Linked DNA regions of Homo sapiens: regions 1, 2 and 4 are each linked to region 3. Evidence: fine-mapped expression QTL. A gene starts in region 3. Each other region holds a variant in brackets. All regions are shown on one strand. Distances are between the middles of the regions.

Region 1 (5,585 bases), 31 kb before region 3:
GGAGAGAAGGTTACAGGGTGAGCTAGCGACGGTTTTCAAGTATATAAAAGGCTCATGCCTAGGACAGTAATAAGCGGTTCTCCCTACTGAGAACAGAACAAACAGAAAACACACTCCAAATGCAGCATGGGGATGTGGATGTTTCTTCCTCTAACACAGGTATTTGTAAGGACTTTTGAATCTGAATGGACTTTTAGAGTGGAAAAAGTATTTTTTCTTTGCATTCATTATCTCTCTCCTGATGGAGCAGGTTGTTAACAATGAAAGGAGGAGCCATATGGTAAAAATACTTTCATCTACATAAGAGGACAGTGATGTGATGTTTCTCAATGAAGAATGTATCATTTCTATATTTGCCTATGAGATCCACTTCATACAGGAAGCAGCTGAAACACAAATTGCTTTGGTAACATGTTCAAGGTCAGAGGGCTATAAACAGCCACATTTTCCCCGTTGCACACTTTCCAGTTACATACCAAGAAAACTGAGTTTTTCCTAGTAAATAAGGAGTGTAGAAGATATCAATACATAAATAGATATACATAAACAAACAAGCAACCTCTTCCTTAAGAAGTGTAGAAGCAGGCTGGGCACAGTGGCTCATGCCTGTAATCCCAGAACTTTGGGATGCCAAGGTGAGCAGATCACCTGAGGTCAGGAGTTCGAGAGTGGACAACATGGCAAAACCCTGTGTCTACTAAAAATACAAAAATTAGCTGGGCATGGTGGCACGCTCCTGTAATCCCAGCTACTTGGGAGGCTGAGGCAGGAGAATTGCTTGAACCCGGGAGGCGGGAGGCAGAGGTTGCAGTGAGCCGACACTGCCACTGCACTCCAGCCTGCGTGATGGAGCGAGACTCAGTCTCAAAAAAAAAAAGAAAAAAGAAAAACTATAGAAGTAGAGTCCTCCAGGGCAGAGGTAAGCTGCCTTCATAGGGAAGCATGGCATTTCCCAGAGGCCTCCATGGTGACTGGCATTTTCTTAATTTTCTAAGTTGAAGGTAGAGCAAAAGTGAGCTTATCTCTGGAACTCTACCCAGACTGACCTTCAAGAAAGCCCACGGAAATAAAGTCTTAGCTGTTTCCTTTGTGCTCCCTTTCTTCTCTCAGCCCCAGAACCCTCTTATTCCTGAACACGTCCACCAATATCCTCAGGGCCCCTCACAGAGAAGGCTGACCAGACCCAGAAACCAGCTTGTTACCCTACTTCCTCACAGCATCACTCTTCTTTAGGATTTCTAACCAACATGATATAGCCTTATGCCTCTTGTTAAGAATGCCCATTGTTACATGGGAATAAATTTTGGAGGGTTTCCACTGAGCAGGTGGGTTTCAGATAAACATGGGCCCTTGCACCTCTCTTCATGCGGGTAAAATCTGCCCCACCTAGTTAGTCATGGCATTTACTCAATCCTGATCTCTTTTCTCCTCCCCTTTCTACCACTTCCCAAGATGTATTTATTTGCCCTGATATTGCCTGTATTAGTCTGTTTTCACACTGCTGATAAAGACATACCCAAGACTGGGCAATTTACAAAAGAAAGAGGTTTAATTGGACTTACAGTTCCACATGGCTGGGGAAGCCTCACAATTATGGTGGAAGGCAAGGAAGAACAAGTCATGTCTTACATGGATGGCAGCAGGCAAAGAGAGCTTATGCAGGGGAACTCCTCTTTTTAAATCCATCAGATCTCGTGAGACTTATTCAGTATCACGAAAACAGCACAGGAAAGACTTGCCCCCATGATTCAATTACCTCTCACCAGGTCCCTCCCACAAGTTCCACAGGTTCCCTTCCCACTTGGGAATTCAAGACAAGATTTGAATGGGGGCACAGCCAAACCATATCATTGCCTAATTGTATTTTTCTTCTTGCTGGATTATTAAAGAGCCTCAGTATCATCTTTAAATGTTATTAGCTTAATAAGAATGAGAATGTGAGACTGTCAACATTAAATCAAAGAAGTGTTTTGCTTCGCTTTGTTTCATGTGATGGGACTATATCTAGAAGGCGTGATAAAAGGAGGGTAGCCCATTTAATTATACATCATAAATTGTTACCAGACATTTGGAATTAGGAAAAGTACATCAGGAATTACAAGGGCCAGCACATGTGAAAAAGGCTTAATTGAGACCATGAATTTGGAAATAGCTAAAGAGGCAGTTTATCTTACTGCTATTATATCTTCTAGTGTTGTTATGCTCTGGATTGGCTTGAATCACATAAAAATGGTTCTAAAAGGGATATGGAATCCATGTTTTATGAGTAGAGATTAAGTTATTTATTTGATATTCCATCACATAAATTTGGGAGCTAGACAAATCTGCATTCAAATCCCAGATCTCCCATTTGCTGTGAGAATCTGGCCAAGAAAGTTCATCCACCTCTAAAATAAGCATAAGAACACCAACCTCCAAGTTTTTCGTAAAAATTAACTTATGTAAGATACATCATACACATAGCAGTTTGTAGCACATATTAAGCTTTCAGCAGGTGGTAATGATTACCACCACTAAAATAATAGTAATAACATTTTCACCCCTCTTTGCTTTCTCAAACACTTCTCTAGATTCTAATCAGACAAACTTACCTTGAAAGCAGATATCAGCAACCTGGAATATTGTGGCAAAGGCAGCCCAGAAATTGTATCAGACATTGTACTTCCAGTGTCTTCCACTAACGTGCAAAAGTGTGCTCAGTGTATCCTGGGCCACCCTCCTCTTCATATCACCCTCCTACCACCGGGTCTCCTGAGTCCTCCTCTCCTTCCAGCAAACCCATCCATGCATACCATCCTCTGCCCTGCCCCAGTGTTACTCCTTCTCTCACCCTCCCCTCTTTAATCAAAACTCTCTTTCCTTCAGGATGGTTATATTCTTTGTGTGCTAGGACAAAAGTACCAGCAGTTTCCTCATCAGCCAACTGAGAGAGTAAATGAAAAGCTCCCAACTGCGCCAAGCCCTCATGTGGCCTCAGTAAATGTGAGTGCTCATCCCTCTTGTGTAAGATAGGAGATCCGTACAGGTTTACCTCTAAAACCCTGGGATTACACAGAA[A/C]TTTAGAGCAAAGTATGAAGCCAGGGTAGTTTGTATGCTGGCAGAAAAGTTTTCTTAACCACTTTCTCCCCAACCCACACACCTCAACTAATCTTTATTTGGTAGACTATGATATATTTAAAGATATCTGAAGAAACTGTGTCACCACCCAGCCAACACAAAAAAGCCAAAACACTATCAAAATCCTCACCAGCCCACTTCCGAATAGTGGCTGGCCCCTGCTCCCCATACAAATATTGCTAGAGTATTTAAAAATAGAGTTAGCACCTGTTAAGGATGTTTGTGGACAGTCCAAGAAAACGTAGATCAGCTTCATCCTGGAAGGACCCTTGACCAAAAGCTGTGACCTCAAGCATGACAAGCTTTTTTGAGCAGAACTAAGAGCAAGATAGGCACCCCGTAACTAAGAGCAGCGTGGGTACCCCAGGGTAAGTATTCTGGTAACATTTGCTGAATTCAGGCTGGAGCAGTGACCTGATCGAGAGGTGGCATTTGCCATTAAGGCAGATTTGGAATTTGATGGGCTGGTTTGTCAAGCAAAGGACCATCCATGGGACTGATGGCTCCGTAAGAACCTAGTAATGGAATTATGTGCCTGGGATACACAGCTGGCAATTATATTCTCCACTTCAGGCAGCAATAAAGATAAAGTGCTTTATAATGTATTCATTCATTTCAATACAGTCAGTAGTGATGTTAGAATGGGGTTCCTATCAAGAAAAGGCAGAACTGCATTTGAGAAGGAAAAATGTGCTTTCTTAAAGAGATTATTTTAGAAAACACATGAATGTACATCAGAAATTTCATTAAATAAGTCAATTTGGCAGGTGATCCTAATGGGCTACTGGAAAAGGGGAATTAGAGCAATTGAAACAGCGGAAACAAATGAGCTACAGGTGTGCCTTCTTGTTGTCTCTGTTCTCATTTGGATTATTACAGGCTATGTCAAATACATTTTGAAAAGTTTGTAGTGTATCATCCCAATAATTATATCTGGAGTGTCTAGAAAGCATTGACTAGTTATATGATGGGGAGCTTAAGAGAGGAAATGTGGTTTCTGGGTTGTCCTCTCATAGGCTCAGCAGCTTCTTGATACTTCCCCTTATCCCAAGGCTGTCCTCCCCTCCTCTACCCAGGAGGAGATGAGTCACACAGGGAAAGAAAAGGACTCCTAATGCAAGAGGAAAAACACTGAGATAACCCCCAGGGAGGGGCGCTGTCCACAAGAGGCTGTGCTGATGCTCATAAAGAAGTTAGACCTGTGAAGGCACAAAGCTGCACTCCTAGCCTTGACCTCTTGCCAATATCAAAAAATGTTGTCTTTTAGGATGATGTGAATTTAAAGCTAACTCATAATCTTCCCCCTCAATTCCCAAATTAGCCTCTTTTTTGAATTTGCCTGTTTCACTAATTTAACTAACACATATTTATTGATAATTTACTATGTGCCAGGCACTGTATTAGGTGCTGAGGATAAAGCCATTAAAAAGGACAAAGTCTTGTCCATACACCCTTACATGCTAGTCAGAAAAAAATGACTTAATATATGATATATCGTCAGGAAGGATATAGTCAGGGAAGTCTTTCTAACCAGGGTACATTTTAGCCATCTCTATAGCTTAAGCTCCCTATCTCTATGAACCTGCAAGAATTTTTAGGAAAAGTAACATTTTGAAATATAGTGTATTAATTGAAAATGCCCATTTTTACAGGCATAAATGAGTGGAGAGGGCCAGGTAGGGGCTGAAAGTGAAGAAGCAAGGGAGGTGGGTCTCTGGAGGAAGAATGTTCAGAACAGAGGAATTGACAGGTGCAAAGGCCTTGAGTAGGGGTGATGCTTGCTTTGCTTAAGGAATAGCAAGGAGACCTGTGTGGCTGGAGAAAAGTGAGCAAGGTGGGATGGGAGGCAAGGCATGTCTCCCAGTTCTTATTCCCCTCCAGGTTGGAAACTGCAGGTAAACTACAGTATCTTTTACTCCTTCCACCTTTCTTTCATCCAGCTACATTTGCTTATCTTTTCTAAACAATGATTCTCTAAAATCATCCCTTCCCTACTTCCCCTTCCTCTCTCAACTTAAATCAGCCTCCAGTCACTTTATATCCAGATTATTCATGAGCCTCCTAACTGGCTTTCCAGCCTCTTGCATCTTCAACTGCTCCAATTACTTTACTAAGCTTCCAGATTAATCTTCCTAGAGCATTGCTTTTATCACATCTTTTCTTTCCCTGCATAAAAATGGCTTAGCATTAGCTGTAGGATAAAGCAGAAGCTCTTTAGCCCACCCCCGCCTCAATCTGGACCAAATCTCATCACCCTATGATCCATTCCCACCTTTCCAACTCCAGTGGCCTCCCCGCATTGTGCCATACTCTGTGTAATCACTCTCAACCTTGAAGCCCAGACTAAGACACATGTTAGCCTACACTGTGTGACCCAGCCAGAAACAGACTATCCCCTTTCTTTAACAGTTGGAGCACTAAGTCACACACACACACACACACACACACACACACACACACACACACAC
Region 2 (5,585 bases), 210 kb after region 3:
TTTTTCAAATATTCTAAAGTGAACATCGAACATTCTTATAAGAACTTTTTTAAAAATTAAAAATCACCCAAGGTACTCCAGAAATGTATAATTGATACAACCCAACTAAATTACTATCAGGATTGTCAATAATCATCCAATTAAGGCAGGACAAAATTCCGTAAACCAATTGGAGGTAGGAGAAGGGGTTTATTTGTTTCCTGGCATGATGCCTAGAAATGATATATGAGCGGTTTCCTTGGGAGTTCCTGCCTTCAGTTTTTGCAGCATACTGTCAGTGACCAGTACAGTGGGTTATTAAACATTGTTGATTTGTTACACAGTGCTGTATACTCACTTCTGCTCTGGGGGTTGTAATTTGGGGAATAGTATGTGCCCTCGTTGTTCTTATTGAATCTCACCCCAATCGGCTCAATACTGAGGGGATATGCTCCTTTGTTATGGAAGGTTACTCTGATGGTGTCTCCCACCTCTGCCCAAATGACAGGACCTGGGAACAAAGAGAGAATTATTATCCTTCCTTGGTATGTAACATGCAGAATGTATAAGATAGTTATCTTCTTTGACTGTGTTCTCTGGCAAGAACTACTAGGAGCAACACGCTTATTTGTGGTGAATGGAAAGCTTGGTTTTTGAGAAGTCCATAATCAATCTGATATGTCGAGGTTGGAAGGAGAGAAGGGCTTTTTAATTCAACTTCAGATTAATGAAATTGATTATCATTTTTGTACAAGTCAGTTAGTAAGCTTTACACATCTACAAAAACTATTCAGAATGTTGAGACTCCTCAGCCTAATCTTCTGTTGGCTGGAGGTGTGTCATTTGTCCCAAGAGTTAGGTGCTATAAACTCTGACCACCCAAAGCAGATAAGTTGAATTGTTTTGGATGTGAAGGATAACACTGTTTTGGATTTTCCATGACCAAAATTAATGATTACCAATTATAGAATAAAAATATATATTTTACATAAATATTTTATGTAATATACAAAATGACATTTATAGAGAGTTTCCTATCTGTTCTTCTGAGTGTATGTCTATTAACTGATTTAATCCCTATACCAACTTTAATAACTATTGTTCCCATTTTACAGAAGGGAGCAGGGACAGACAGTGAGTATTTTCTTTTTTTCTTTTTCTTTTTTTGAGATGGAGTCTCATTCTGTTGCCTAGGCTGGAGTGCAGTGGCATGATCTTGGCTAACTGCAACCTCTGCCTCCCAGGTTCAAGTGATTCTTCTGTCGCAGCCTCCCAGTAGCTGGGATTACAGGCACTCGCCACCACGCCATTCTCATTTTTGTACTTTTTTTTTTTTTAGTAGAGATGGGGTTTCGCCATGTTGACCAGGCTAGTCTCGAACTCCTGACCTAAGTGATCTGCCTGCCTCGGCCTCCCAAAATGCTGGGAATACAGGCATGAGCCACCGCGCCCAGCCAAGTTGAGTAACTTTCAAAGGTCACACAGCTAATGTATGCACTGTGTACTCACAAAAAAACAGCTTTTTATAAGGGCCTCCAATTCTTGTAATACCTTGTTCAAAAAGTATTATACCTCTGAGTCACCGCTAGGAAAAAAAAAAGTGAAGAACCAGGACAATCTGAATCCATACTCTGTTTGCTCACCCACTGTTATTCTGCCTGCGTGCCTTGGCGAGAACAGGTCTCTGGACTCTGGCTGGGGGCAGCCTGCGGAGGGCTCTAGGACAGATCCTGCTTGTTTCATTAGTAGCCTGGGATTGATTGATTGATTGATTGATTGATTGATTTTGAGACGGAGTCTCGCTCTGTCACCCAGGCTGGAGTGCAGTGGCAAGATCTCAGCTCACTGTAAGCTCCGCCTCCCGAGTTCACGCCATTCTCCTGCCTCAGCCTCCAGAGTAACTAGGACAGGCACCCGCCACCACGCCCGGCTAATTTTTTTTGTATTTTTAGTAGAGACTGGTTTCACCGTGTTAGCCAGGATGGTCTCGATCTCCTGACCTCGTGATCCGCCCGCCTCGGCCTCCCAAAGTGCTGAGATTACAGGCGTGAGCCACCACGCCTGGCCCTAGCCTGGGTTTTATTTCTAAGGGAACACATCTTTAACTAAGTGCAGAGGCTCACAACTTAGTTATCTATTTAAACCAAGTCACATAAACACACAACACACAATTCCCCTTACCTCTTTGAAGAAAAAAATAACCATTTGAAGTCAGGTCAGCATGGGTTTTTGTTTGTTTGTTTGTTTTGTTTTTTGAGATGTAGTCTCGCTCTGTCTCCCAGGCTGGAGTGCAGTGGCACGATCTTGACTCACTGCAACCTCCGCCTCCCGGGTTCAAGCGATTCTCATGCCTCAGCATCGAGGCACAAGAAACTGGGATTACAGGTACGTGCCACCACGCCCTGCTAATTTTTGTATTTTTAGTAAAGATGGGGTTTCACCATGTTGTCCAAGCTGGTCTCAAACTCCTTACCCAAGTGATCTGCCCGCCTCAGCCTCCCAAAGTGCTGAGATTACAGGGGTGAGCTACCACTCCCGGCCGTCAGCAGGGCTTTTAATGATGAAAATTTACCATTGGTAATTTACATTTGGAAAAGTACTTAGCTGCTGCATTTTATTGTTTTATCTTCCACACGCCTACTTAACACATAGAAATCATGCAGTAGGTCCTGAAGTTACTATTCTTTCTGAGGTTGATGTAGCCCATGGGAAGAGTAAACCAGCCATATATATTCTGCAAGAACTCACCCAGGATGCCAAGATGCTCTTCTTCAGGGCCTCTCTCCTTTCGATTTGTGAAGGAGGCATCTGTGTACTCACGATAAACCAGCTTTTTATAAGAGCCTCCAATTCTTGTGGTACCTTGTTCAAAAAACACCGCTGAGTCACTGCAGGGGGAAAAAAGTGTTTAATGCTGGGGTTGAAGTAGAACAGAAAGCAGGTATTCACTTAAGGTGCTAATTGAAGAGAAAAATTCTGACCAGTGCTTAGAGATGAATATTATCCATGATTTATAGCAATCCGTACCAGTTACTCAAACAAAGCAGACAGTTCCAGTCCACTCATAGAAGGATGGTCAGTTAAGAAGTAGAGAATCATGGAGGATGTTTATTTTTTCAAGTGAAGAGAAAATTTTCAGAAGGGCCCCTTCAACCCCTTGACAAAGGATTCTACCATAGAATCTTTTTATCAAATTGTGAAATGTTTAAAAACACAGTGGCTAGTTTTTTGTTGTTGTTGTTGTTGTTTGT[CT/C]TTTTTTTTTTTTTTTTTTTTGACATGGAGTCTCGCTCTGTCACCCAGGCTGGAGTGCAGTGGCACATATCAGCTCACTGCAAGCTTTGCCTCCTGGGTTCACGCCATTCTCCTGCCTCAGCCTCCCGAGTAGCTGGGACTACAGGCGCCTGCCACCATGCCTGGCTAATTTTTTGTATTTCTTTAGTAGAGACAGGGTTTCAACATGTTAGCCAGGATGGTCTCGATCTCCTGACCTCATGATCTGCCCGCCTCGGCCTCCCAAAGTGCTGGGATTACAGGCATGAGCCACCATGCCTGGCCTTTTTTTTTTTTTTTTCAGGTGGAGTCTCACTCTGTTGCCCAGGCTGGAGTGCAGTGGTGCCATCTCAGCTCACTGCAACCTCCACCTCTCAGGTTCAAGCAATTCTCCTGCCTCAGCCTCCCGAGTAGCTGGGACTACAGGCGCCCGCCACAACGCCCGGCTAATTTTTTGTATTTTTAGTAGAGACGGGGTTTCACCGTGTTAGCCAGGATGGTCTCGATCTCCTGACCTCAGTGATCCGCCCGTCTCGGCTTTGCAAAGTACTGAGATTACAGGCGTAAGCCACTGCGCCCGGCCCCAGTGGCTACTCTTTATTGTGTATTAGCACTGGCCAGCTGCTCGGGAGCTTTTATTTATTTATTTTTTGTTTTTGGAGCAGAGTCTCGCTCTCTTGCCCAAGCTGGAGTGCCGTGGTGTGATCTTGGCTCACTGCAAACTCTGCCTCTCTGGTTCAAGTGATTCTCATACCTCAGCCTCCTGAATAACTGGGATTACAGGCATATGCCACCATGCTCAGCTAATTTTTTGGTTTTTAATAGAGACGGGGCTTTGGTATGTTGGCCAGGCTGGTCTCGCACTCCTGGCCTCAAGTGATCCACCCGCTTTGGCCTCCCAAAGTGCTGGGATTACAGGCATGAGCCACGGCGCTTGGCCAGGAGCTTTTGTTTATTAGCTGAAACTCACATGACATCGCAACAAAGTTGGTATTATTCTCCCTATTTTGCAAACGAAGAAATTAAATTTCAGAAAGGTAATTATTTGACTTGCGCAAAGCCACCTCATTCATCATTTCTTTCACTTGACAAATGCATCAAACACCTGCTCTTTGCTGGGAATCCTGCTATGTGTTGATGACTTAACCATAAGCAAGGTGGACTCTTCCTTGTCCACGTGGACCTTACATCTGGCAGAGAAGACAGGCCATGAACCCATCAATATAATACAGTGTAATAAGCACAGGGTATTATGGAGCATTTCTTTGAGGTTGGGGAAAGTGCAGTGAAGAGGCCACAAAGACATTCCAGAGGAAGTGATTACTCAAAACTACCTAAAGGGGAAGTAGAGTTAGCAAGATGAAGTGTGTGTGTAGCGCAGAGACTAGGGCAGGTGTATACAAAGAGGAAACTGCTTATGAGCAGGCTTAGAGAAAAGAGCGAGCATGCCATGTTCTAGAAAATATGGCAGAAGCATAGCATGCAAGACAGGGCAGAGGAGTGAAGAATGAGGCTTAGATAGATGGGAGATAAGCAGTAGGACCTAGTTAAGGTTTCAGCCTTCCATCCCAGGGCAGTGAGAAGCATTTGAAAGATTTAAGCATTCAGGATTAGCATTTTAGGAGGATCCCTCTGGCAGATGTTTGGAGAATGTGTTGGAAAATACAAGACTGCAGTAGGGAGACCAGTCAGGAGCCTGCTTTTCTAATCTCAGTGAGAGGCAGAGATGAGTTCATAGGTATTGGCAAAGAAGATGGAGAGAAGTAGACAGCCTTCAGAGATAGTTTCTATAAAACAAGGCAGTACTTGATGAGGAGAGGAGTTTGAATAGCCTCATCCATGTGGGGGTGTCACTAAGAAGTTTGAAATGCAATCTGAAATTCACTAGATCCTCCTGAGTTGGAGACGCAGCGTTGGGAGTAATCACATGTAGGTGTCAGTGTAGCATGGGACTTAAATCTCTGCTTCAGGAGTCACAGGTCTGGGCTGAGCAAGTCCTAGCTATCCATTTATTGTGTGATGTTGGATGAATTACTTAACCTTTCCAAGGAGGGTATTTTTAATATGGATGGCAAACAGGGCTTCTCTGAGGAAGTGATATATGAGTAAAGACTTGGAGCAGGGGAGTGGCATCATCTCATTGACATTTTTGAAAGATCACAGTACTGCTTTGTAAAAAATCGATAGTAGAAAAGGAAGACAAACAGAAAGAATGACTGGGAGGCTGTGGAAGTCATTCAGACATGTACAAAGAGTAGCTTGTGTACATCAAAGGACACTATCAAGAAAGTGAAAGACAACCTATAGAATGCCAGAAAATATTTGCAAATAACTGA
Region 3 (5,558 bases):
GCTAAAATCTGAAACATTTGCCTCACTATACCATGTTTATCCACTACCTCTAAGGCCTTACAATCCAAAATGTTTGAACACCTCACTATTCAAAGTGTGGGTCCATAGCCTGGGGATCACCTGGGAGACCCACCCCCAAACTACTGAGTCAGAATCCGCATTTTAATAAGATCCTTGGGCAATCTGTGTGCGCATTAAAGTTTGAGAGGTCTTGCTCTCACACCAGACTGAAGCTCACTGCAGGGCAGCCTCAGGAAAAGTAGGCAGTGGGGTCATTATGATCTATATTAAGACAATGAAGAAGAACAGATTGTAGCAACCTCAAAATGTCCCTATTTGATTCAAAGTGGTAAAAGCTGTAAACTTTCTATTTGTGTAAATATACATGAAGCTCAGGAAGGGAAGCTGTGGTAACCGTTCCTTTTACTTAAACGTCCTGGGAGTTGCAGCAGAGAGGAGCTTGTTCTAAGGGAAGCTTTTCTGTTTTTCCCAGTTGTCCCCAGTTCTACCTCCTGGCTTTGCCCTTTCAGCCCCATCACCACATCCCTGGCTAAGTCCAGCCTGAGATAGTAGGCTGCAAGAAGTAGATGGTTAAGGGTCAGCTGATGGCAGGAGGGTTCTGGGTGAAAGATGGAAATCTCACTCTTCCAAGTTCACCTCTCAGTCTGCAAAAGAGCAATCAGACTGAGAAGTACCTCTCTTTGTTTTCCCTCTCCCCACTTAAGATACAAAAGTGTAGCCTTTGTGTTCCTTAAAGAGCTCCAACTCTTCTATGTCTATATCTTTTGAATAAGTGGAAACCCATCTATTGCCCTTTCCACTTTTCTGTTTCCTACAACGGAAGCACATAATGCCAAGTAACTGGGAGGGCCTCCCATGTGATCAGCGGTCTCTAGGCCATGGTCAAGACTAGGAAGGACTCAAGAGAGGCTCCTGGAAGGTGATATTTAAAATACTGATTTTAAGGTTCTACCCTTAAGATTCTTTTTGTTTTGTAACCTGTTTTTCTTCAAATAATATATTTTGAACAGCTTTTTATATTAAAAATATATAATGATTATGCCTACAGAGTATTTCATTACCTCAAGAGTATATGACGCGACTTCAAAAAGTCCATAGAATATACATATTATAAAAAAAAAATGCATGGATTTCAAAATTATTTTGCACCAAAATAAACCTACCCTTAAGATTCTGATTCAGGAGGTCTGGGCTTAGGCCCAAAAATCTACGCTTTAACCAGTGCCCCCAAGTGATTCTGATGTAGGAGATCCACACCCACACACGAGGAAACAGTGATATAACTGGTTTGAGGACAGCAGTACCACCTTTGCAAATAAATCACTTATTCTTAAGCATCTGTTTTGCTTTTTGAACTGATGTCAACTTCCTGATTGGTTTCCAAATGGCTTTGCAGTACTCATTCAACATTTACCGAGCAATTTCAGTTTTCAGTTTGCAGAGAACTGAACTACCCGAGGCTTGTTCTGTGTTTGGACTGGGGATGGGGAGCAGAGAAGGATGTGATCACATTAAAGCTATTTCTCAACTTCCTAGAAAAATGACAAATTGACCATTTCAAGATTTGTGAAACAGGTTAGCATTGGCTAACCACAGTTACAATAATTTACTAACCTTTTTGGAGCCCCTGTGTACAAGAGGCACCAAGACTTTCTGGGTGGGAAGGTTGATTCTGTAACCAAACTGCCAGGGTTTAAATCCTACTTTCTCCATTTATATTATATGACTATAGAAAAGTTAGCACTTTGGGAGGCTAAGGCTGGCAGATCACTTGAGGCCAGGAGTTCCAGACCAGGCTGGCCAACATGGTGAAACTCTGTCTCTACTAAAAATACAAGAAAAAAAAGAAAAGAAAAGTTAATTTAACTTTTCTGAGCTCAGTTTCCTCCTCGTCTGTAAAATGAATATGTAACACCTCACTGAGTTCGTACAAGGATTAAATGAAGCACTTAAATGCCTAATTGATGCAGATGGCTCCAAGAATTTAACATTTACGAAATATTCACTATATTTTTTAGGTTAAGGGTACAAAACCATTGTGAGTACACTAAGGAATGATTATAGAGGCTGATCGAAATTCTGCAAAAAAAGCGTAAATTTTACGTTTCATTCAAGCAGTTCAGACTCACGATTTTAACTAGAGTAATCTGGGGTTTGTTTGCTTGTTTTTTAAGGTTCCCTAACCCTTGGCTTCTTGGGGAGTTTGATGCCGCACTCAGCCCCAAAGTCCCCCTTAACTCCCAGGTTTAGCGGCGACAGGGGGCGCGCGGTTGACAAGGGCAGGCGCCCCGGGGAAGTAGGAGCAGGGGCGCCGGTGAGCCGCAGCCGCAGCGGCAGCCTAGCCCCGAGGGAGGGAGGAGGAGCCGAGGGAGACGCGGGACCCGGAGCCCCGCGGGCCACCGCCCCTGCCGGCCGCGCAGCTGGGAGGATGCGGACGGCAGCGAGAGCGTGCGCGGCCACGTGACGGCCGCTATAAGAGCGCACGGGGCAGACGCTCGGTTCCCCGCCGTGCCTCCTCGCTGGCCGCGCTCCCTCCCGGTGCCGGCTTCTCTGAGTCACCAACCTGAGGCTGCCCCGGCCGCCTGCGCACCCGGCAGCACCATGACAGGTACCGCCGCGCAGCCCGCCGCCGCCAGCCCCGGGACCCCGGCTTCCTGCCCAGCCGCCGCCTCCCTTCTCCTCCGCCCTCAGCCCCGGAGTGTTCCCGGCAGGACGAAACCGCCGCAAAGTTGCTGGCTGGCCGCAGCCGGGCGTGTTTCTGCCTGCGTCAGCTGCCGCCCCGCCGCCCCCCAGAGTGCAGGGATGGGGCAGCCGGGCAGAGCCCGGGCCCTCGGCCGGAGCTCTCGTTCCTGCTTCCGTCTCCTCGTCCTTCCTCTTGCTCTCACGGCGAAGGGCCGGCGGGCGGAGCAGCTGCGGCGGGGCCGTGTGGGGGTGGGGAGCCGGTTCCCCTGGGGGTTCCAGGCGGGAGTCCGGGGCGCAGCGGCATCGTGGGGAGCTGCCCCGGCCTCTGGCGGCCCGGAACCCCAGGAAGCAGGGGCTCCGAGGCGGGGATACTGCGGCCTCCGCCCGGCTCCTCCGCCGCCCGCCCCGGCCCCGGCCGCCACGCTGAGCCTATTTTTAGGCCTTTGGGGCCGGGTTGCGGGAAGCCGGGAGTCGGACTAGCGTCCCCGGGCGCGAGCCCCGTCTGGTGGGAGGGCGCCGGCTTTGGCTTCACTTGTTGCGAGGCGTCCGGGCCACTCCACGAGTTAGCCCCAGCACTGGGAAGCTCCGAGTTAGCTGGTCCTTCCGTGTCATTGAGGCTAATAGCCAGGGTTATTACAGCAGTTGAACTGCCACAAAGATTGCAGGTGTAACCCAGAGTTCAGCCGTCTTTAGGAAGATTAAACTCCTACCCAGCTGTCATTGGTCTTTCTTGGTCATTTGTAATGTTGGCTAGTCTGGTGTTCTAACCTGTGTTCTATCCCTTATTTAATCTTGGAAATCATCCATATCCTTGCTTCCAGAAATCCTTGAATCCTGCTCACCTTATTACATTTTTCTCCATGATCGCCTGGAACCTGGACTTCATTTGAGTTAGATGATCATTCATTTTGCCTAGCTTAAGTATTTTTGGTACAGATTGACAGCGATGTTACCCATGTTATAATGGGCTGAAGATAATAGAAGCAAGTACAGGCGGATGTTGATGGGCCTGTCAAGGGACAGGTGCCACTGTTCAGAGCTTTCCTAGAGTGTGAGTGACTGGGAAGCTGGTGGCCCTTCGGGGGTGGGGAACTGGTCTTCCTACAACTTAGTAGTTGGCCTGCCGTGGGAGAGGGCCTAATAAAATGTGTGAAGATGGCTCTCAGGTCAGCAGCCGAGGGATGCGCTGGCCCACTAGGCAACCCACAACTTCCTCTCATGTCTCGGTGGAATTTCTACTGCTTCCAGCCTCCACCTTGGAAAACGGGCAAGGGAGAATGAGGGAAAGCCAGGTCAGAAAGAGAAGGACTTCATGACAAAATGTCCCAACTCGCTGGTTAAGCAACTGACTCCTACCAGAACTTGATCCGAAGTGTCCTATGCATTTGGATGCCCACCAACTTGCTAATGTTTCTTGGAGATGGAACATGGCCCAGAATTGTCCCAGGGAATGACTGGAGAAATCTTGAAGCCTGTGCTAGGGGTCTTGGGAGGGTGGGGACTGTTCAGCAGGAGGAAAAATCCATGTATTTACCTTCTCTTCTGGCAACTAAGTGATTATTGGAGATTGGGGTGCGTGTCTGTTGGTTTGGGCGGGGGGAGGGGGAGGGTGCAGGATGGACCTGCACCTTCTTCTCCAAAGAAAAGCAGGCAGTTGTTTAGGGCTTCTTGGGTGATCTCCAAATCTATTTATCAGTGATTGATAACTATTTAGATAGAAGCATCAAGGAGGGAAAGCCTCTTTGAGGAGCTGATACTTGAGGAGAGACTCAATGTTATTTTTCAGGGATATTGGGGCAGGGGAGCTTTTGCTCCACGTTGAGGAAACAGTTATGTATAAGATGCCTGGAGTTCGAGGCTGCAGTGAGCTATGATCACACCACTCCACTCCAGCCTGGGTGGCCGAGTGAGACCCTGTCTTAAAAAATACATACATACATACATTCCTGAGGCATGGCATAAACGTAAGCACCAGAATGAAGAATATGGACTCTGCTTTCAGACTGACTGAATTGAGTTTGACGGTTGGTTTTGTGCTTGTCTGAAAACACTGTCTACAGTACCTTGTAGAAGAAACAGCAAATGTACTACTTGATCTCTTCATTACCATCTGTTAGTTGCCTGGAGTTCAAACTCTTGGTATTAAGCTATTGTTTTGTCTGAGAATTTAGCGTGTCGGATTTAATTTCTATAGCTTAATCAACCTGTTGAAGGTTGCCATATGTGCCTGCTATGATCTTGAACCATTCTTGAAGTGGGCACTTGGGGTTTTCTCCCCAAAGGGCTACAGCTTGATTCATAGAGAAAGTTGATGTTAGAGGAACTGGTTTTGCTGAATTACTGTTTGAATGGGTTCCTGGGGAAAAGGCTTTCTCCAGATAAGATACTGTAATGAGTGTTTTTTTTTTCTTTGTATTAAGATCAGGCCTTTGTGACACTAACCACAAACGATGCCTACGCCAAAGGTGCCCTGGTCCTGGGATCATCTCTGAAACAGCACAGGACCACCAGGAGGCTGGTCGTGCTCGCCACCCCTCAGGTCTCAGACTCCATGAGGTGAGGACCTCGCTGCCACCCCAGCATCCAAGGGGCTCTGACATCCTTCTCCCTGTTGCTGACATCATTGGACATTGAGGCCATGCTCTTTTCAGGAATTGAGCACCGGGTAGAGAAAAATGAGAGATGCTGAGTGCAGGATTGCTGTATTTGAAACCTCCTCCTAGCTTTTGGGAGATATTCCAACTCAATTCTTTTCTGGAAGGTGTTATGCTGGCCCACACTTTCTGGTTCCAACTAGGAGGGGAAAGAAGGAGTCGTCTTCCTTCACTCCATCCCCTCTGGGTGATCTGAAGGAG
Region 4 (5,000 bases), 160 kb after region 3:
GGTTTATATCTGTCTGGAAACTGGAATACCTTTTTCCAGAAGGATAAGCCTTCAGTAATGGTGGTTATCTTAACAAGCCAGCCCCGACTTAGTGCCTAATGTGTCTGAGATACTCTTTCACGGTCACTGTCACCCAAACTGTGTCATATGATAGTGTTTTATGGCAAGCATGGTCTCTGAGTTCCTAGTGACCCTTTTTAATGGCCTGCCTGTGGTTTTCTGTTGCTGACCAGGCTTACTGCCTGCTGTCAGCCTCTTGGGAAACCAGAACCACAGATTTCCTGTGCCTTTGTTTGTATAAGATACACACATGGCCTTTTTGAGAGATTACTTTAAAATCAGGATTATTTCCTTTGTAAAAATAGAAAAGTAACAGATTAAAAAAATAAAACTTCCATTCTTTGTCCTCTTCTTTCCCCTCCTTGCGTTTTCAAACCTCAGAAAGACATAGGCTTATATAGGGGTGATGGTGTAATTTAAAGTACCTAATAGATTGAAGTAGGATCAATGTACCTTTGGAAAAAAAATAATTCCATGTATTTTCAGAGTCTTATAAAAGGCAGAATGAAGGAACAAGGAAGAGACAAAGGGGAGGGATAAGGAGAGGTGGGCATCTGGTGGAGGTATGCTGCCCTTGAGGCCAGTGGAGGTAGGAGGGGGAAGGCATAATCACACCTCACGGTTCCTCCTTTCCTGGGACTCCACCAGTTCTGAAGCCCTAGGTGCCAGTTAAACAAGCACACGTTTAGCCCACCTGCTGACTCAGGCTTTGGAGCTGTGATGTCTGAAAAAAGTTTCACAACCTCAAGAGTCTGGTTGAAAGTGCTTGTGGTCTGTCTCCTTTTCCTCTGAGATTCTGACTCCTCAGCACTAACCAAGCCACCTTAACTATTTTTACATGGAGGTAACAATGAAGATGACCTCAGAATCAAAACAGCATGCATGGACAAGAAGGCAGGGTCCTGGCAGCATCATTTTGTGAGCTCCCAGAATAGAGCTCTTCCATTAGTTTTCTTATTCATTCTACTTGAATTAATGGTCCTTTACAAGAGCAAAAGGCTGGCTCCTCTAGTTTACCTGACATGTCCCAGCCTGTCCGCCATTCCAGGCACTATTCGTACCTAACAGACTAACAGTCAGGGGCCATCGGAACATACAAGCATTTCTTTCACACACACATCCGCAAAGAAACCATTTTATGTACTCTACAAGCAGTAGAATGTCCTTTCATAGTGTCTGGTTTTTCCTAAAAACCCCATTTGGGCGTACCCCCAACCATCCTGCTAGTTGTGGGGGTTTCCCTGGGTGGCAGAGTACCAGCTTCATCTCCTGGAGGTATCTGTGGAGCCACTCTGTGGGGCACACACACAAGTTCCTGCAGCTGTGGGACCCTCTTTCCGTATTTATTCAATCAATCAATAACTGAGTTTGTTGGCTGAGTAGCTCTATGGAATACACTATTGGTTACATAGGTTTAGATAACCTCTTCTGTTAAGAATAGGAATCTGGGTTGGTCTTTTGTTTGTTTGTTTGTTTTTTGGTGGTGGTGGGTATGGGATGGTGGCAGCAGAAGAGATTTGATCAAATAAACTGACTGATTTTTGAAGATTGAAGTGCATGTACCTTTATTTCTTGCTTAAATATGTGATTTTCCTTTACTAGGCTTGCCCACCTGTCAGTATGGATGTCTGTGCTTTAAGAATACAGCTTTTCATAGGCTTGAAAGCCATCTGTCACTTTAAAAACCACATCATACTTTTGACTAAAGCAGAACCTGAAGCCATTCCAGAGAGAAGACAGTCACCCAAGAGGCTTCTGTAAGCATCCCCTTGCCCCAGGCATTCCTGCCAGTTTCTGGAATGAGTTGTAACTGGTATATTTTGTGTTTATCTTTTTTCAAATCATAACTTGGAATGATCAAATGGCTTTTTTATGGTGGTCTTTTTCCAGAGAAAGAAAAGAAGGTTCTAACAATCTCTGTAATACACTTTATAACTGACCTGGAAACTTTTAGGAGAAAATGGATTATAAAATAGTTTCAGTAAAAATCAAAGGTGTTTTAGATTAGTTAAAGGCCATGCTTTTCTGTGTAATTAATGAGAAAGACTGAGCCTATAATGCTAATTGAAACTACAGGACTTTTTACTGTCTTTCTTCTTTGACCCTTTCAGTTGTTACATTTTTATCTAAAATTATTTTCTGATATTATGAAAGAAATTAATAATGTATGTCTTACCTTAAAGCACATTTATGATCTATAGATATGTGCTCATGTATCTGAAAATAAAGTTGTATTTTGATAACATTCATCTCTTGTTATTTATTAGGTTTCTGCTTTCCCATTGTTTAGAATAGAATGCTTAATTCC[A/G]GACTAGTTATGCTTCTATTTGATGTTTTCCTACTTAGTGGTAGAGAATGCAATCTAATTTCTCTAAGGAAAATTTAATCAAGAAAGAAATCTCTTCAGGGAGTGAAGCATATAGTGTATTTCATATCAAACATGGGTTATTTTTAACATAGATTTTTACTTTTTCAAATTGTTAGTGGCTGTGCTTTGTTGCATCAACAGGAATCAGAGGTTGACTTTGGTAACTGATCACTTTGAGTGTACACAGAGTGGTCTGGGGCTGACTGATCCTAAAAGCTTTCTGGGGAGAGGAAAAGCAGTTTGTAGTCTTGCACATTTGACATTCTAATAGTATAATTTTTTAAATGATGTTTTAAAAATTCTAATTCATTTGAAAATTCATTTGATAAACAATTATAAAAGATTGTACACTAAAGAAAATGTATCACATAGTGAAAGCAAGAGATAAGATAGTGCTTTAAGCAGACTTAACAGTTTTATGTGTCTTCATCATATTCTCAGCAGCCATGATGTTGCTTCTGCTTAGATTTGTGGCTCAGGGCATGCTAGACTCATGAAAGTCAAATGCAGAAAAGAGCCTGGGTATAGGGACTTCCGCAGTCAAGGATCTTTTCCTCTTGATGGGACTTGCCTGTTCTTTGAACTTACTGCTCATTTGAGAATACTTGCAGAGTGAATTGGAAGCAGTTGGTTTATCATTACATGAAAATTACAGAATATTAAATGCAGTTAGCCTATGTAGTATTGTGAACTAATATTCCATAGAAATAGAGTGTACAGTTAATCACTGAGGAAAATAGTAAATGAAAATGATTTTATAGTTATTTTATATCCAATATTTACCATTTACAACTACCATTTATTAATAATGTCATTTTAAAATTCTTGTCCTTTGTTTTGCTTTTAGTTCGAGAAAAGATACCAGTGTTAAAATCAAAATACCTCCTGTAGCTGAGGCTGGGTGGAATTTGTATATTGTGAATACGATCTCACCAGTGCAGCTGTACAAAGAGATGGTACTCTTTTCAAACTTCTGATTCTTGTTTGTAGATATTTAGAGTGAAATTAATGATCAGAAATTGATTCTAATTATCATACATTCAGGATGCCACAGCCATTCAGCTTCCTGGCTCTGTCTGACAGTGGAATGTATATCTCTCTCTGCCTCCTCATTGTTACAGCTTCTGACATCCGAGGAACCAGTAGAAATTCCCTTCACTAGCATAAGACTCCCTTATTCATACCCACTCTCCTAAGAAGATCGATTGGCCAATCTGAACATAGTCTTTGACCTTAATTTGAACTCTAGCAAAGATAGCTAAGAAATGGAGCAAATAAATAAATAAATAAATAAATCTAGGATTATGTATCCCTGTCCCACTCTTCTTATTTAGAAATGTTAGCACATTGTCCCAGGGCACCACAGCTACTGCAGCATTGTCCTGGGGGGAGGGACCCAGAGGGAGCATCCTTACTGATCTAAGAGTGACAGCTTCCTACTCATCCCTGGCAATTATTTTAACTCTTTATTTTGAAACAATTTCAAACTTACAGAAAAGTTGCAAGAATAAGTATATTCTTCCCAACCCTTTGGGAGGCTGAGGCAGGTGAGTTGCTTGAGGCCAGGAGTTCGAGACTAGCCTGGGTAACATAGTGAGATCCCATCTGTACAAAAAATTAAAAAATTAGCCAGTTGTGGTGGCACATACCTGTAGTCCTAGCTACTTTGGAAGCTAAGATGGGAAGATCACTTGAGCCCAGGAGTTCAAGGCCACAATGAGCTATGGTCGTACCACTGCACTCCAGCTTGGGTGACACAGCAAGACCCTGACTCTTTTGACTCTTTTTTAAAAAAGAAGAATATTCTATATATTCCCATTCCCCACACAGATTTCTCCACAGTCAACATTTTACCCTATTTGCTTCTCTCTCTCTTTTATGCACTCTGTGCTTTCTGTGCACACAGATATACATACACTGTTTTCTGATTCTTCTTCGGGAGGTAAACTGCATACATCAGTCTTTTGCCCCTAAGTACTTCAGCGTATATTTTCTAAGAATAAGGATACTCTCTTGCATACCAGAATACAGTAGTATGCTTTAATAAATTTAACATTGACACAGTGCTTTATCTGGTTTATGGTTCATAGTCTAATTTTGTCAACTGACCCAATGGCTTGATAGCATTTCCCCTTCTCCAGTTCAAGACCCAGTCTAGGATCAGGTAGTGTGTTTAACTATGATGTCTCTTTAGCCTCCTTTGAAGCTGGAATATTTCTATAGCCTTTCATTATGTTTTATGACATGAGCATTTTTGAAAAATATAATTTTCCCCTCTACTTTTTTTTTGAGAGTATTCCTTATTTAGGGTTTGCTTTTTTTTTTTTAATGGTTAGATTCAGATTATGCATTTTCAGCCAGAATATTGCATAGGTGATTTTTGTGTTAAGGGTATCACATCTGGAGGCACATGCTGTTCATCTACCCCTCTTTGGTGATGTTAATTTTTGGTCATCAGGTCAAGGTGTTGCCTGATTTGTCCCTGCCAATAATTTAATGCCAATTATTATATTAGCTGTGCCCTGTCTTTTCAGTCTTGCTTAATTGAAAGTCTTCGTTTAGGTGATTTGAC

What was found. PIP is the estimated chance that this variant, and not a neighbour inherited with it, causes the effect. A credible set is the group of variants that fine-mapping cannot tell apart.
Region 1: its variant is the best candidate, but not a certain one, in a credible set for the expression of GYG1 in esophagus muscle (GTEx, PIP 0.59).
Region 2: its variant is the best candidate, but not a certain one, in a credible set for the expression of GYG1 in non-classical monocytes (Schmiedel 2018, PIP 0.90).
Region 4: its variant is the best candidate, but not a certain one, in a credible set for the expression of GYG1 in whole blood (INTERVAL, PIP 0.87).

Annotation. Positions count from the first base shown.
Region 1 is chr3:148,958,485-148,964,069 of GRCh38, forward strand. No RefSeq gene overlaps it. Among named protein-coding and RNA genes, the nearest start is that of GYG1, 30 kb to the right of the region's middle. The variant A/C (reference allele first, on the strand shown) is at 3,058.
Region 2 is chr3:149,199,375-149,204,959 of GRCh38, forward strand. It overlaps CP (ceruloplasmin), which reads right to left. Exons shown (of 19, transcript NM_000096.4): 7 at 2,728-2,867; 8 at 338-490. Among named protein-coding and RNA genes, the nearest start is that of CP, 20 kb to the right of the region's middle. RefSeq lists an enhancer at 1-72. The variant CT/C (reference allele first, on the strand shown) is at 3,231.
Region 3 is chr3:148,989,019-148,994,576 of GRCh38, forward strand. GYG1 (glycogenin 1) reads left to right here and starts at 2,522. Exons shown (of 8, transcript NM_004130.4): 1 at 2,522-2,629; 2 at 5,124-5,259. The coding sequence starts at 2,623. RefSeq lists silencers at 2,161-3,210, 3,244-3,538.
Region 4 is chr3:149,151,832-149,156,831 of GRCh38, forward strand. It overlaps HPS3 (HPS3 biogenesis of lysosomal organelles complex 2 subunit 1), which reads left to right. Exons shown (of 17, transcript NM_032383.5): 7 at 1,663-1,817; 8 at 3,276-3,384. Among named protein-coding and RNA genes, the nearest start is that of HPS3, 25 kb to the left of the region's middle. The variant A/G (reference allele first, on the strand shown) is at 2,369.